Linked DNA regions of Homo sapiens. The protein of the gene in region 4 interacts with the protein of the main gene of each other region in a biochemical or structural test. Each region holds a gene or a part of one and is shown on either strand. Other genes may lie near its edges.

The links. Proteins that work in one complex are often made in the same cells at the same time.
Region 1: the proteins of LYN (region 4) and CENPV form a complex in vitro, tested with the Homo sapiens proteins (one study listed by BioGRID).
Region 2: the proteins of LYN (region 4) and INPP5D form a complex in vitro, tested with the Homo sapiens proteins (one study listed by BioGRID).
Region 3: the proteins of LYN (region 4) and NDFIP2 form a complex in vitro, tested with the Homo sapiens proteins (one study listed by BioGRID).

The regions. Positions count from the first base shown.
Region 1 is NC_000017.11:16,346,709-16,350,480, reverse strand, and holds part of CENPV (centromere protein V), read left to right. Parts: intron 1-451; coding exon 452-550; intron 551-1,795; coding exon 1,796-1,865; intron 1,866-3,772. UniProt on the Homo sapiens protein: Required for distribution of pericentromeric heterochromatin in interphase nuclei and for centromere formation and organization, chromosome alignment and cytokinesis.
Region 2 is NC_000002.12:233,066,831-233,070,602, reverse strand, and holds part of INPP5D (phosphatidylinositol 3,4,5-trisphosphate 5-phosphatase 1), read right to left. Parts: intron 1-3,772. UniProt on the Homo sapiens protein: Phosphatidylinositol (PtdIns) phosphatase that specifically hydrolyzes the 5-phosphate of phosphatidylinositol-3,4,5-trisphosphate (PtdIns(3,4,5)P3) to produce PtdIns(3,4)P2, thereby negatively regulating the PI3K (phosphoinositide 3-kinase) pathways.
Region 3 is NC_000013.11:79,550,644-79,554,415, reverse strand, and holds part of NDFIP2 (NEDD4 family-interacting protein 2), read right to left. Parts: intron 3,400-3,772; coding exon 3,296-3,399; 3' UTR 3,294-3,295; intron 1,901-3,293; 3' UTR 1-1,900. UniProt on the Homo sapiens protein: Activates HECT domain-containing E3 ubiquitin-protein ligases, including ITCH, NEDD4, NEDD4L, SMURF2, WWP1 and WWP2, and consequently modulates the stability of their targets. As a result, may control many cellular processes.
Region 4 is NC_000008.11:55,998,288-56,002,059, reverse strand, and holds part of LYN (tyrosine-protein kinase Lyn), read right to left. Parts: intron 3,715-3,772; coding exon 3,561-3,714; intron 2,643-3,560; coding exon 2,511-2,642; intron 1-2,510. UniProt on the Homo sapiens protein: Non-receptor tyrosine-protein kinase that transmits signals from cell surface receptors and plays an important role in the regulation of innate and adaptive immune responses, hematopoiesis, responses to growth factors and cytokines, integrin signaling, but also responses to DNA damage and genotoxic agents.

The DNA of each region.
Region 1 (3,772 bases), on a different chromosome or scaffold from region 4:
TCCCAGCTACTTGGGAGGCTAAGGCTGGAGAATTGCTTCAACCCAGGTGGCAGAGGTTGCAGTGAGCCAAGATCGTGCCACCGTACTCCAGCCTGGGCAATAGACTGAGACTCCATCTCAAAAAAAAAAAAAAAAATTTAGTATTTGACATATAAATAAAAATGTCTGGTGGTGGGTTAGGATCCCTCACATTTTCGAAATGTTTGGAATGTTTTATTTTGCAACTTAATATAATTTAAGAAATTGGTGAAAAGAGAGCTCATGGACAAAGAAGGTGCTGAAACCATTCTTCACTTAGGAAATTGACAGTGCCTCCTTAAAAGCAGAAATGCATCTGGTTGTCATGTAGAAAAGACTTTTGTCTAATCTTCTGTCTTTCTTTCAGCAACAAAAAGAGAGCAGGAGGCAGCTATTCAGAAATTATTATCTTTCTGATTTTTGTTTCATTTAGTGAATACCAGGGCCTGGTGAAGCACACAGGAGGCTGCCACTGTGGAGCAGTTCGTTTTGAAGTTTGGGCCTCAGCAGACTTGCATATATTTGACTGCAAGTGAGTATTTTTTTTTCCCTAAATTGGCTTAAAAGAATTTCAGAGTTAAAATGCAATATTTCAAAATAATCTGGGGAGTTGGGGTACAGAGGAAACATTGGCCTTGGGCTGGTAACTGTTGAAGTCAGGTGATGGGGACAGAAAGGTTCATTGTTCTATTTTTGTTCCTTTTATATGGCTCATCACAGAGCTTCAACAGCATGGCCCAGGTGACACAGAGCAGGGTCCTCAGGGCTTGTGGCTTGTGGCAGCATCACCCTCAGACTGACACTGCTGAGGAGCCGGGGGCGGTTAGCTGCAGGTGTGCCTGGCTGGGTACTGAGTGGAAAGCCTTGGGCAGAATCTTCATAGAAGTCTAGAGTTGGGGAGAGTTGGAGGGTATGTTAGTAAAGGGTGTATACACCTGGAGGCTCCCCAGGCCCTCCACTCTCGCTCTGCTCTTCGGTTGAGGCAGATGGCACTGCTGGCTGTGGAGGGCCTGATTTGTACCACCTTCCCCGGCGTTATGATGGAGCAGGGACGACAGGCTCTGGCTTTGGGACCCAAAGTTGGCATGCAGCTAATTATTTAACAGCATCCAGTCCTTTTTGCCCCTAGGTACCGGAATTATATATGAATAATAAGCACATACGATGGAATTACTCAAATGGAGAACTGACCAGGCTACTAACAATAGAGTCCAGATTGGAAAAGAAGCACTGTGGAATAACTTGTGAGAGGATTCTGTGCTAAATTAGAACTTTTTCAAAGGTGGCCTGAAAAGAGGGGACTTCAGTTTAATTCCAGAGATGGTAATTCTGGGGACGTGTTTTACTTGGAGCTGGACTTCTTGTGACGTGGTGATGAAGAAAGAGGGAAACCTAAACTTCCTTGTCCATTTTTGGTGTGGATGTCTCAGAGACATCAGGTTGTAGCAGTGTCTGAAATTTGTTTCCTAAGTGTCTCTGAAGTCCAGCGCTTCTCTTCACTGTAAAGAACTGAGGGGTGGGCAGTACAGACCTGTCTGTTGGTCCTGTGTTCTGAGCATTGCAGAACCTCGACTGCTGACTTGGGACCCCCCTGGGCTCTGCTGTACCTGCAAACCAGAGGCACTGCTATCCAGGCCTTTGCCCCAGCTCCTCGGCCCTGGATGGTGCTGAAAGGGGCATCATCTGTGGGGTCGGCTGGCTCTCATGGCTGGGCCGCTCAGGCATAGAGGATGCAGGTGGCTGCTCACAATCTGGAATTTGCTCTGTCTTTCTGTAGTTGCAGCATTTGCAAGAAGAAGCAGAATAGACACTTCATTGTTCCAGCTTCTCGCTTCAAGCTCCTGAAGGTCAGTGCTTAAGAGCAGGGTCAAGGAGTGCAGAACCCATTGGTGAGATTTACAGGACCCCCCACCCAACTGTTAGCATGCCGTCTGTAGCATGGGAGGGGCCTGGAGCATAGCAGGGCCTCTCACGGGCTTTGGTTTCAGGTTGACATTTAAAAGGTGGGCCCGGCACAGTGGCTCACGCCTGTAATCCCAGCACTTTGGGAGGCCAAGATGGATGGATCACCTGAAGTCAGGAGTTGAGGACCAGCCTGGCCAACATGGTGAAACCCTATCTCTACTAAAAATACAAAAATTAGCTGGGCGTTGTAGTGCATGCCTGTAATCCCAGCTACTTGGGAGGCCAAGGCAGGAGAATCACTTGAACCTGGGAGGTGGAGGTTGCAGTGAGCCGAGATCACACCATTGCACTCCAGCCTGGGTGACGAGTGAAACTCCATCTCAAAAAAAATGAAAATAAAAAATAAAAGGTTGTGTTATTTTTTACCTTTATTTTTTGGAGGCCTATTTGGTATTGTGGAAACATTTTCAAATTCAGAGAATCAAAAAACAATAAAATCACCCAAATCCTGTCAACTAAAGGTAACCACTGTTAATATTTTGGTGTCTGTCTTTGTGTATTATTTTCTACTCTGAGAAATACATCTAAACCTATTGTCTTATGTTTATTAAGTAGAATTTTACCATTCTTTTTGTTGATAAACTGCTTATCTCATTTCCCAATGAAAAGCTTATATACTTATTTGTAACTTTAATTTTATTATTTTGGGGAATTTTTTGTACTTGGTACAAAATTTGAAAGGTAGAAGAAAATGTGTATATACACAGTGAAAAATCTTTCCCTACTGTCCCCATGCCCCAGTCTCCCTCTTCCCCACAGCCGATTTCCTGGTCTACTTACCCCATCACTGTCTCTGCATCATTGCAGTTGAGTCCCGTTTTTTTCTGATTATCAACAACACTGGTGAACCTCCTTGGTATACATTTTTGACAATTTAGAAATTTCTTCTTTAGGATCAATTCTCTTAGAAATAAGTTCTCTGGCTATTCTGGGCACACTTCCTACACCCTGCTCTACAAGGAGCAGTTAAAAAAAAAGAGAGAAAGAAAATCTCCAGGTTAAAGAATACAGATTTTTTAAAAAAGACTTTTAGCACATTATGGGTAATGTGGGGTTGGGCGGGGCTTTAATTCCATCCAGATAATGCTGGATGGCTTGGGACCACTTGGCAGTCCTTCGCTGCTTTTCTGTGCTGCAGTGGCTATGGAGTGAGCAAGGCTCCTCAGGGAGCTATTTCTATAGGAAGCACAATTCTGGACGGTATGGCTGGGGAAGCGTAAAGAGGGTTAACAAGGATAAGAAACCTCCACCCCTTCCCCTTCAGCTGTCTGATTTCTCTCCCTAAAGGTAAGCCACTGTTTCTTGGATCCCTCTTCAAAGATACATATGCATATAAAAGCACATACAGGCCAGGCACAGTAGCTCATGCCTGTAGTCCCAGCACTTTGGAAGGCCAAGGCAGGCAGATCACTTGAGCCCAGGAGTTCAACACCAGCCTGGACAACATAGCGAGACCCCCATGTCTACAAAAAATAAAAAATCGGCTAGGTGTGGTGTTGCATGCCTATAGTCCCAGGTACTCGGGAGGCTGAGGTGGGAGAATCACTTGATCCTGGGAGGTCAAGGCTGCAGTAAGCTGTCGTCATACCACTGCACTCCAGCCTGGATAACAGAGTGAGATCTTGTCTCAAAAAAACAAAACAAAACAAAACAAAAACACCACACATACCAGTATATAGCCTTAAAAAAAAAAAAAGAAATGGTAGCATACCACGTACGTTGTTTTATACCTTGCTTAACTTTTTTTTTGAGACAGTCTCACTCTGTTGCCCAGGCTGGAGTGCAGTGG
Region 2 (3,772 bases), on a different chromosome or scaffold from region 4:
GGGCATGGTGGCGGGAGCCTGTAATCCCAGCTACTCGGGAGACTGAGGCAGAAGAATCACTTGAACTGGGGAGGCAGAAGTTTGCAGTGAGCCAAGATCACACCATTGCACTCCAGCCTGGGTGACAGACAGAGACACCATCTCGAAAAAAAAAAAAAAACCTGCTGAATCCTTAGCCCAAGTCTATTAGCTCCAAAGTCTCTGTCATAACCCACCTGCCTTGTACAAGAAGAAACAAGTGAATTTCTGTGTGCAGAGGGATTCTCTGCATTGAAAAGCGAAGGGAGAAAAAAGGAAAAGACTGAGAGACTTCACTATATAAAAATTTACAGTCCCTGAATGTCAAAAAAAAATCATAAAACTTAAAGGAAAATCACAATGAAAATATTTGCAACAAGTGTGATATAAACTTGTGCAAGTAGATAACAGAAAAACTATAGCTTCGATAGAAAAATGGCAAAGAGAATTGAACAGACCATTCACGAAAGAGGGATTATGAGGGTCAATAACTCTATCAAATAAGCTCAACGTGACCACAATCAAATGCAAATCAAAATGAACATTCACCACCTTCACCTTGCAATGTATTGTGTTTTGAAATGAAAATATTCAGAATAGGAAGGTTAGAATGAGGCGGGCACTCTCTTGTACAGCTTACTGGTGCATATATGGAAAAAAATTTCTGGAAAGCAATGTATCATTCTGTATCAAGAGCCTTAAAAACATTCCTGTCCCTCGATCTAGTAATTCCACTCCTCGGAATCTATAACCAGACATGTTTATAACATTTCTGCAAAAGACCTTCATCAGTCATATTTATAACAACAAAATGCTGTTGATAACTTAAATATCTGATAATAGAAGAATCATTTCATGAAGTGTCGCACATCATGTAATAGAATCCTGTACATCCATTAAATATGATCATTAGGAAGAAAACCTAACTAAATGGGAAAATGCTAATGCTGCTAGAAATCTCAGACTAAAATTAAAATATGATATTTAGGAAGAAATTCTAACTAAATGGGAAAATGCTAATGCTGCTAGAAATCTCAGACTAAAATTATACATATACATGTAATACATGTATATACAAAATGGAAATTACATACATACAGGGAGGTAGAGAGAAGAAGAAGATACACCAGTGAATTAACAATGGTTATTCTAGTGTCTCAGTGATGGGGTGGTTACTTTTCTGCTTTTTGCTTTGTACTTTCTGTGCTTTGTATAAATACCATTTTTTAAAGTGACTCTAAAGAACAGGACATTGCTGTTTATCAGATCTATTTGTTTCTCCATTGCCACTGACAGCTGTGTGGTCCAGCAAGCCTCTCTGCTCCGGGGAGGTCCCAAATGATCTCTCGGGGACAGCCCTCCGTGGGGTTGTTTACAGTAAGTATTGAACCCAAACTGTTAGGGGCCTGCACTTGTTAATATCGTGTTTTCCTAATGAAAGGGGACAACAGGAGCCTGAAGTGAGCAGGGGAGAGAATCTGGTCCCCACGTGCTGCCGCACCTGTCAAGCCTGAGTACCCCCGTCATGGAACATGCTGTGCTCCTTCCATCGTCCTCAGCCCCAGGACTTCAGTACCCTCTGCACCCACCCCCTCAATTGGAGCCCAGTGGTCTTCAGATGCCTGCCTTTCTTCCTGATGTCATGTTCATTGCCCCTGGTTTCACTCTGTGTGCCTCTGTGCCCCCATCCCTTCCTCCTGCTGGCTTCCAGGCTCCCAGCCCTGTCCCCAGCAGCCTCCGTCACAGGGGCATCACTCAGTCCTCTTCCTGCTTCCATCTCTCTGAGTGCTTCCTCCAAGGAGGCCTCAAGTGACAACTCAGCATCCCCCAGAGGCCTCCAGGAAGTTTCCTAAGCAATCCTCTGCCCCCATTCTCTTCTCTCCTCTGTATGGAATGTTCTTCACAGATGGGTCCTGTACTCCTCTGCTTCTGAGATGTCACTAGTCACTTTTAGCTCATAAAGACTAATTGCCAGCACGATTTTTTTTTTTAGACGGATTCTAGCTCTGTCGCCCAGGCTGGAGTGCAATGGCACGATCTCGGCTCACTGCAACCTCCACCTCCTGGGTTCAAGCAATTCTCCTGCCTCAGCCTCCCAAGTAGCTGGGATTACAGGCACCCGCCACCATGCCCAGCTAAATTTTTCGTATTTTTAGTAGAGACAGGGTTTCACTGTGTTGGCCAGGCTGGTCTCAAACTCCTGACCTCATGATCCTCTTGCCTCAGCCTCCCAAAGTACTGGGATTACAGGTGTGAGCCACCACACCTGATCACCAGCATGATTTTTTTTTTTTTTTTTGAGACAGAGTTTCACTCTTGTTGCCCAGGCTGGAGTGCAAGGGTGCCATCTCGGCTCACCACAACCTCTGCCTCCCAAGTTCAAGCAATTCTGCTGCCTCAGCCTCTCGAGTAGCTGGGATTACAGGCATATGCCACCATCGCAGGCTAATTTTGTATTTTTAGTAAAGATGGGGTTTCTCCATGTTGGTCATGCTGGTCTTGAACTCCCGACCTCAGGTGATCCACCCACCTCGGCCTCCCAAAGTGCTGGGATTACAGGCATGAGCCACCTTGCCCAGCACCAGCATGATTTTTATGTGTGCAAAGCATTCGGTGGGTGCTTACCACATGCCTGGACTTGGGCTGTAAATGTCACTCACATCTTTCCATTTTGTCCTCTTGATAACCCAAGGAAACAAGGAAAAGACAAACAACCCTGTTTTCTAAATGTACAAAGGATCTGAATTGACTTTTCTCCAAATACAAATGGCCATTAACCATGAGAAAAGACGTTTGGCATCATTAGCCATTAGAGAAATGCAAATTAAAACCACAATAAGACATCACTTCACACCCACTAGGATGGCTATAATAAAAAAGATAATAACAAGTGCTGGTAGGGAAGTGGAGACATTGGAACCCTCAGATGTTGCTAGTAGGAATGCAAAATGGTGGATCCACCAAGGAAAACAGTTTAGCTGTTCCTCAAAGTGTTAGACTTAAATGACCCAGCAATTCTGCTCCTAGATATAGACCCAAGAATATTGAAAATATATGTTTGCACAAAACCTTGTATATGAATGTTCATCACAGCATTATTCATTATAGCCCAAAAGTGGAAACAACCCAAATGCCTGTCAACTGATGAATGGATAAACAAAATGTGGTTCTTTCAATACAGTGGCTCATTAGTCAGCCCTGGAGAGGAGTGATTCATGCCACAACACAGATGAAGCTTGACAGCATTGTGCTCAGTGAAAGAAGCTGGCCCCAAAGTCCACATGTTGTATGTTTCCAGTTATGAAACATCCGGAAAAGATAAATCCATAGACAAAAAGTCATTTAGTTGCTGCCAGGGTTTGGGTGGAGAGGGAATAGGGAGTGACTGCTGTGGGTACAGGGTTTCTTTTCTTTTCGAGGTATTGAGAATGTCCTGGAATCAGACAGTGGTGTTGGTTTCACAACATTGTGAATGCACTAAAAGCACGATAAAGAATTGTATACCAGGGCCAGGTGCAGTGGCTCACGCCTGTAATCCCAGCACTTTGGGAGGCCTAGGCGGGCAGATCACCTGAGGTCAGGAGTTCGGGACCAGCCTAGCCAACATGGTGAAACCTCGTCTCTACTAAAAATACAAAAATTAGCTGGGTGTGATGGGAGGCACCTGTAATCCCAGCTATTTGGGAAGCTGAGGCAGAGGATTGCTTGAATTCAGGAAGCGGAGGTTACAGTGAGCCAAGAACACACCATTGCA
Region 3 (3,772 bases), on a different chromosome or scaffold from region 4:
AGCTAAGCTTCCTAGTAATTATTTAATTACCATGTAGCAAAGCTTAATTTCATTTAAAAATTATTGAAAGAATAAAGTACAGGTCTATAAGAAATTAATATGAAAGAGATCCAGCATGAGTTTGAATATGTTATTAGTACAGTTTAATTTTAATTAACTTCCAAATTAGGCAACTAAACTAAATATTTTTTCTTTACCCCATGCTACTGTCTTACTTCAAGGGGTGTAACACAGGTACTTTAATACAACAATAAAAATTTTAATATAACAATAAAAATTCTACGCAGGAAAGTAAACTGAATGAGACAAAACAAAAAATAGGCTATATTAGCAAAACAAAACTGTTTTATTTATCAAAGACAATGAAAAAATTAGAAAATACAGAAGAGGTTATAAAGCATAATAAATTTTATTTTTTGGAAATGGAAAAATGTCCCTGAATAGTTAGATGTACCTTTTAGTAGTAATGTCTAATAATAAATAAGAAATCAATTTTATAAGGTCCATATAGCTGTATTAAATAATTTTTAAGTTTAAAAGATAAAATACCATCATTTTAAATGTTGGTATTCAAAACCAAAGATATAACCGAAAGGAAAAACAGATGAGACATAAAATGATTTGCAAGATGGGAAATATAGTAGTTTATGAATGTAAATTAAATTCCAGTTATAATAGTGGCTACACACTCTCACTACACACACAGACCCCACAGTCCTATATGCCACAAACACATTTCCATAACTTGAAAATGAGTATTTTGCATATCTCAGTTCAGGATATGTTTTTTACAAGTTAATCCTAAAGTCATAAAGCAAGAAGCTATTCATAGTACAAGATTTTATTTGCTAAGCTTTACAAATTAAACTCTAAAAAATTATTACAATGATACTGAAAGATATTTTATTGGCCTTTTAAAAGACAAACACAAATGAGAATTATCTTATTTAGAAAATTAACTTTGAAAATTATCTTAAATGAAATAAATATAATATCTAATACAATCTCTTCCTGCAAGATCTCTTAAGATGGGCAATCCTAAAAATGCAGCTTCCCATCTGAAAATCCCTAAAACTAGTATGTCCCTTAAAATAAAATTTATTTTTCTTATAAAGGACATTTGGTATTCCCACATTTTCTTAAAATTTGTCCTAAAACAAATTCTATCTTTAACACTCACGTTTCTAAATATATATATGTGTGTGTGTATATATATGTGTATACATATACACATATATATTTAGTTCACTTAATTTAAAATTAGTGAAAGCTATCTGGACACAATTTCTAAGAAAACATTGCAGAAAGTAAGTTATGCATGGTTATTTACAGGAAGAGTTTTCCTAAATAATAATGTAAATATCATGTTCAAAAATCTGACAAATCCTTTCTAATAATCAGCACTGCAGGTTTCAATACACCTTATATAACAAAAGATGTTTCATGTGTAGAACTGCCAGATGAGTCTAAGAGCCAGAAACTAAATCATTTGACATGGTTAAGAATTTCATTTTTATTATACTAAATGTCAGGTCAGAAGTCAATGGCATTTACAAGCTGGAAGACTGTTTATCCACTCAACTCTTTCAATTATATCAAACACTGATTAACCAAATGTGACTGGACTTAACTGCTACAACTTTATGGTTTCTATCAAGTATATGCAAATATCTTAAATGGGCACATATGCATATGTGCAAAACAAATGAAATATAGATACTTAAAGAATGAACAGAAATGGCTTGTAAGCAAAAACCACCCTGCCATTCAATTTCGAAACTCCGTCTTTTCTTCACTAATTTGTCTTCTGTTATTAGTAGTCTTCTATTAAAGTTGTAGGTTTACAGATGATCTGGAAATTTCACATTGGTATAAGAAAGGAATGTCGGGTTGATGCAGTCTGGAGACAAAGAAGGAATTAGTCTTAAAATGTATTAAGTTGTCTTTATCTAAATCATAGTATAATACAACACATTTTATAGAAGAATTATATTAAGTATATAATATTCTCTTCATTAAAGTCTACATATCAGAATACATTCTAAAGTGTAAGGCTTCTATAGCAGATTTTCATCTAGAAAATATTTGCATTGTATTTTAGACTCTTCAAAATGCATAGAAGACAATCACACAAATTAGTAAAACAGCAAAATTACTTTGCCTTTTAATCTTATTATTAATACTGACAAATTCTTAATGCCAGTGTCTGCAAAGATATTTTGCTTGTTAAAATAAAAAAGCGACTTCTTTGGGAGTGGTTGGGGGAGACTTTAGTAGAACACTTAAAATGATACTTTAACATGATCTAGAAATACAAATGTATTCATAGTACTCTAGCAGAAATAAGTAAATTATATAAGCTTATGTATAACTTATATAAATGATAAAATGTAAGCAACCAAATCACAAAGCATGCAGTTTATTTATTTGAAAAAAGAATACTTAATAAACTTGAAACACTTTGTTCCTTATAGTCCTGCATTCAGAAGTTAAGTACTAGTAGACATTTTGGTAATAGAGTTCAAATGCTTTATAAGTTTACCTTATTTATAGGTATAAAGTACATGGTACTTGCTTTAAAAAGTAGAATAGGGAGTATGAGGTTACTTTATGTGAAGATACTCCCGCTGAACAATAAATAAATACTATTACTATACCCACGACCTCCAGAAATTCACTGGATAACCAGTAAGACAACTTCTACTCATTTCTTCATATTCCTACTTATTCAAGTTGTAGCCTTCATAGTTGATAAAAAATCAGCACACATTAAGAAAACAATAACAGAACTATTTTCTTCACATGACTTTTATTCCTTAATCCAGACTGTTAAAAGGACTGCAAGACAAATTGTTTTTCAATCAGATTTTTTTCTCCACCAGATGTCTATGTGAATTTCATATTGTTTTAGACAAAAATGCTCATTCCTTCGGTCTAAGTACTATGTCATATTTTGTTTTTTCAAGCCTTCAAATTTTGTGCTGGTGGTTACTTCATATACATTCTATGGTTAATCTTTAAAGAGAAGTTTTAAAAGTCTGATTCAAAATTTCAGTTCACTCGCTATGTATTTTAAAAATTAAAATTTATGAAATTCAATTTTAAAAATCTAAAAGTTATCTAAAAAGGTCTATGACTTATCAAATTTCAATAAGCTGACTGTTAGCAGTATTAAAAAATATTAAATATGCTAACAGTAAAAATCATGAATACACATTAGGCATTTAATATGTATCTGGCAAATTTGAATACATAAAGGGAATAGGCAGAGTTCACAGATTAATATTTCTTACCTCTACAATAAGAAGAAATACCTTGTTCTATGAGCAGCTGCCATACTTTCAGACATGTTTCTGACTTTTAGATAATTAACAAATCCTCTGAAGAAAAGGAGCAGGCCTGAGAAGGTTGAAATAATATGGATATACTATGTTTTTATACAGAAAAGGGCAAGATAAATTTAAAGTAGACAATTATAAACAAGATCCTCTTGGCTTAAGGAATTTTACTTGCAGACTTCCATTCATTTCTGTAATATATTTTACACTATAAGGATAAACTCTGTCACAAGGAAATACAATTTTTCAATTTGTTAAGCCTAGATGTACCAAAATTAAAGCAAATCTAGCTATAAAAATCCAGAATTACATAAAAATATACATTTAAGTGATTTTCTTCAATAGTAAAGTTACCTGACGCACTTAAACTGATTCAACTCATAAAAACCCCATTGAACCCATGGGCTCAATCTTTTCAATTAATATAACTACTG
Region 4 (3,772 bases):
ATCCACCTGCCTCAGCCTCCCAAAGTGCTAGGATTACACGTGTGAGCTGCCGTGCCCAGCCAGTTCTTTTTTCAAAAAATGATTTTTCACCCCAAATATTTCCAAATCCTGGGCATTGTGCACATTGGCTGAGGGGTCTTGGGAGGCACATGGATCTGGGGCTCAGAGCAGCTTTGCCACCAGCGAGGGGCCCAATCACCTTCTCCAAGCCTCAGGGGCCATGGTAGCACATCACATGCAGCACACCACGCATATCACAAAACATTCTTTTATGAGATTGTATGTTTATCAGGTGTCAGATTATATACATAATCTGACTATATAATCTTTCTCTACAGACAGATTATAGAAAGAGATGTAGGCATAGATGGAGATAGAGATATATAACATCAGACACTGGGGCTGATTAGAAATATTTTTCCTATTTTGCAGCAATGTTAATTCATTAATCTCAGTGTCTAGAGCAGCTGGAAGATGAAATGCTGGCACTAAAGGGATTTCCTGGGACAGCCGGTCCACTGTGCAGGCAGACACCACCCAAAGGCTTTCAGCTGCCAACTGGTCCCTGCCCCAGTTTCTCTGTGGCTCATCCCCACATGAAACAGTAGTGATGGGAGCACGCAGACTGTGTGGCTGCTCTGTCCAAAAGCCTTCCCTGGTTTGCATCTCAGCAGAGTAAGAGGGGCTGCTCTTACATGGCCAGTAAGTCTCTCCCTGAGCCACTCTAACCCCCAGCTACATAGCCTTCTTTCTCATCCATCGACTGTCTAGAGATCAAATGGCCTAGGTGCGTCATTCATTCATTCATTCATTCACCCATCCATCCATCAAATACTCACAGAGGCCCAAACCACGCTGGCCTCCTGCTCCTGTTGGCCAAGCCCATGCTCTGGCTGCTCTCCCCATGGGGACATGCAGACCTCAGAGAGCCCAAGACTCCCTCCCTCTGTGAGTCCCTGCTGCTGCCAGGACCATGGAATAAAACCAGCAGCTCCCCACCCCCTTCTGTGAGTACTCGCCAATCCCTAAGCCACTCCACGCAGGCTCCACACTACTCTCACCACCCTACAGGATGGCTGTGTGTTTGATAAACATCAGTCTCTCCCCACTACAATATTCACTCTCAAGGACATGGGCAGATACCATGGCATCCTAGCAGCTGAGAGTGCCTAGCATACTCAAATATTTTTTGAATAGGAGAAAGATTTAAACATTAAAAATTTAATTTTAAATTCCCCTCATGCAAATATTTTGTTAATAGTCAAACATAAATGAAAATATGAAGGCTCTGGGAGAAATCCCTCTTTTTTTTTTTTTTTTTTTTTTTTTTTTGAGACAGAGTCTCACTCTGTCGCCATGGCTAGAGTGCAGGGGTGCAGTCTCGGCTCACTGCAACCTGTGCTTCCCAGGTTGAAGTGATTCTCCTGCCTCAGCCTCCCAAGTAGGTGGGATTACAGATGCCCACCACTACGCCCAGCTAATTTTTTGTATTTTTAGTAATGACGGGGTTTCACCATGTTGGCCAGGCTGGTCTCGAACTCCTGACCTCGTGATTCACCCACCTCAGCCTCCCAAAGTGCTGGGATTACAGGTGTAAGCCACTGCACCTGGCCGAAATCCCTCTTCTTAACCATGCCAGCACAGACCATGGAAAAATGGAGGGATGGTCAGAATCTGGCTCTGCAGGCTTCAGGTGTTAGGAATCTGGAAATAAATACTGAATGATGCCCTCACTGATACCAGTATGTTAAAGAGCAGAAGGGCCTCCCACTGATAAACAAAGGTGGTTATTTCTTGAAGAGAGAGAGACTCCAGGGCACTTATTACAAAACCAAGCATCGGAAATCCTTGTCTCCATGTGGGTTTCCTCCTTCCAGTCAGGGGGACTGCCTTGGAGGAGCCCCTGTGTCTATCCATCCTCATCTCGACACCAACAACCATGCCCGGAACATTCTAGTATGTGGTGGAATTAATCAGTGCAGAACAAGAACACACACTCAAAATAAGGAGGCAAAGAAGTGTCTAAGCACTCTTAGAACAATTTATGCTAAAGATAGTGAAAATAAAAATCAAGTCTTTTTTTTGTTTCGAGATGGAGTCTCACTCTGTCGTGTAGGCTGGAGTGGAATGGCGCGATCTCAGCTCACTGCAACCTCCACCTCCCGGGTTCAAGCAATTCTCCTGTCTCAGCCTCCCGAGTAGCTGGGATTACAGGCATGCGTCACCATGCCTGGCTAATTTTGTAATTTTAGTAGAGACGGGGTTTCTCCATGTTGGTCAGTCTGGTCTCCAACTCCCGACCTCAGGTGATCCACCTGCCTCGGCCTCCCAAAGTGCTGGGATTACAGGCGTGAGCCACCATGCCCAGCCCGTGAAAATCAAGTTCTGGCTCAAAGCACTTATTCTTTGCTATCGGGTAGATGAAGTAATTATTACTTTTTAATGCCTTCATGCAACCTGACTTTTTCTCATTTATACAGCTTGATTGTAAATAGCTAAGTAAACCATACCTGGGTAGGGAATTTTCCCATAGGTGACAATTTCGTATAGGAGGATTCCAAAGGACCACACATCAGACTTAATAGTGAAACATCCAAAGTTGATTGCTTCTGGAGCCGTCCACTTAATAGGGAACTTAGCACCTAAGGAAGAAGATATGTGGTTCTTACTTGGGTATTTAAACTTAAACAAAAAAGTCATGAACATGTGACCCCATACTTTCTTTTCTTTTCTTTTTTTGAGGCGGAGTTTCACTCTTGTCACCCAGGCTGGAATGTAATGATGCGATCTCGGCTCACTGCAACCTTCACCTCCCAGGTTCAAAATAATAAAATAATAATAATCCTTGTTCAACAATGCTTAGGAATTTCAAGAAAGTGCTTGTCTCTTCCAGAAGACAGTGAGCACTGCAAAAATATTTGCTCAGCTCTCGTGGGTGAGAGCATAAGAATCCTCAGTCATAACCACGTGGGCAATCCTAGCCCAAGAAAGGCCCTGCAGTCCCGACCATGCTTGGCCCCCTGACAATGTGCCACAGGCTGGGGAACTTAGGCCTCTCTGTGCATTTTTGGTTCATATATATAATACAGAATGTGGGAAAATAAAGAAGTAGATTTTTTGCATTATATTTAGTTCTGTGTGTATGGTAATGTTCATGTTTTAATTTGTAATTAAAAGGCTGGAATAAACAATATAGAATTAATGTTACAAATATTTTCTCCACAGCCCCGTATATTATATTCATTGTTTGAGTGAAAACTTTAACAATACAAAATAAACAAGAATCATCTTGCTGAATCTATTTGTGTTTTGCATTGCTTAATTGAAATACAACTGATAGCATTTGTAAGCCTAACAAAAGTATCATGTGGAGTTAATCAAGAGAGTACCTTCTAGAAACTATTAGAATAGAACCATAAGCAGACAATTATGGTACAGCTTAAATGTTGTACCAAATAAGTTTTTCTTAATGGTGACTATTGTAATTGCTTTGTCAAAAACAGACAAAAACAAAATAAAACACAATAATAAAACATCTAAAGATCATTAGTGCAACATACCTTCCCTTGCTGTGTACTCATTATCTTCAATTACTCTAGCAAGGCCAAAATCTGCAATTTTGCACATGAGTGACTCGGAGACCAGAACATTAGCTGCTCGCAGGTCCCGGTGAATGTAGTTCTTCCGCTCGATGTATGCCATTCCCTCTGCAATCTGAAAACAGAAATAGGCTCCCATTTTCATATGTAGGGTAGGTGACTGGAAAGTGCCA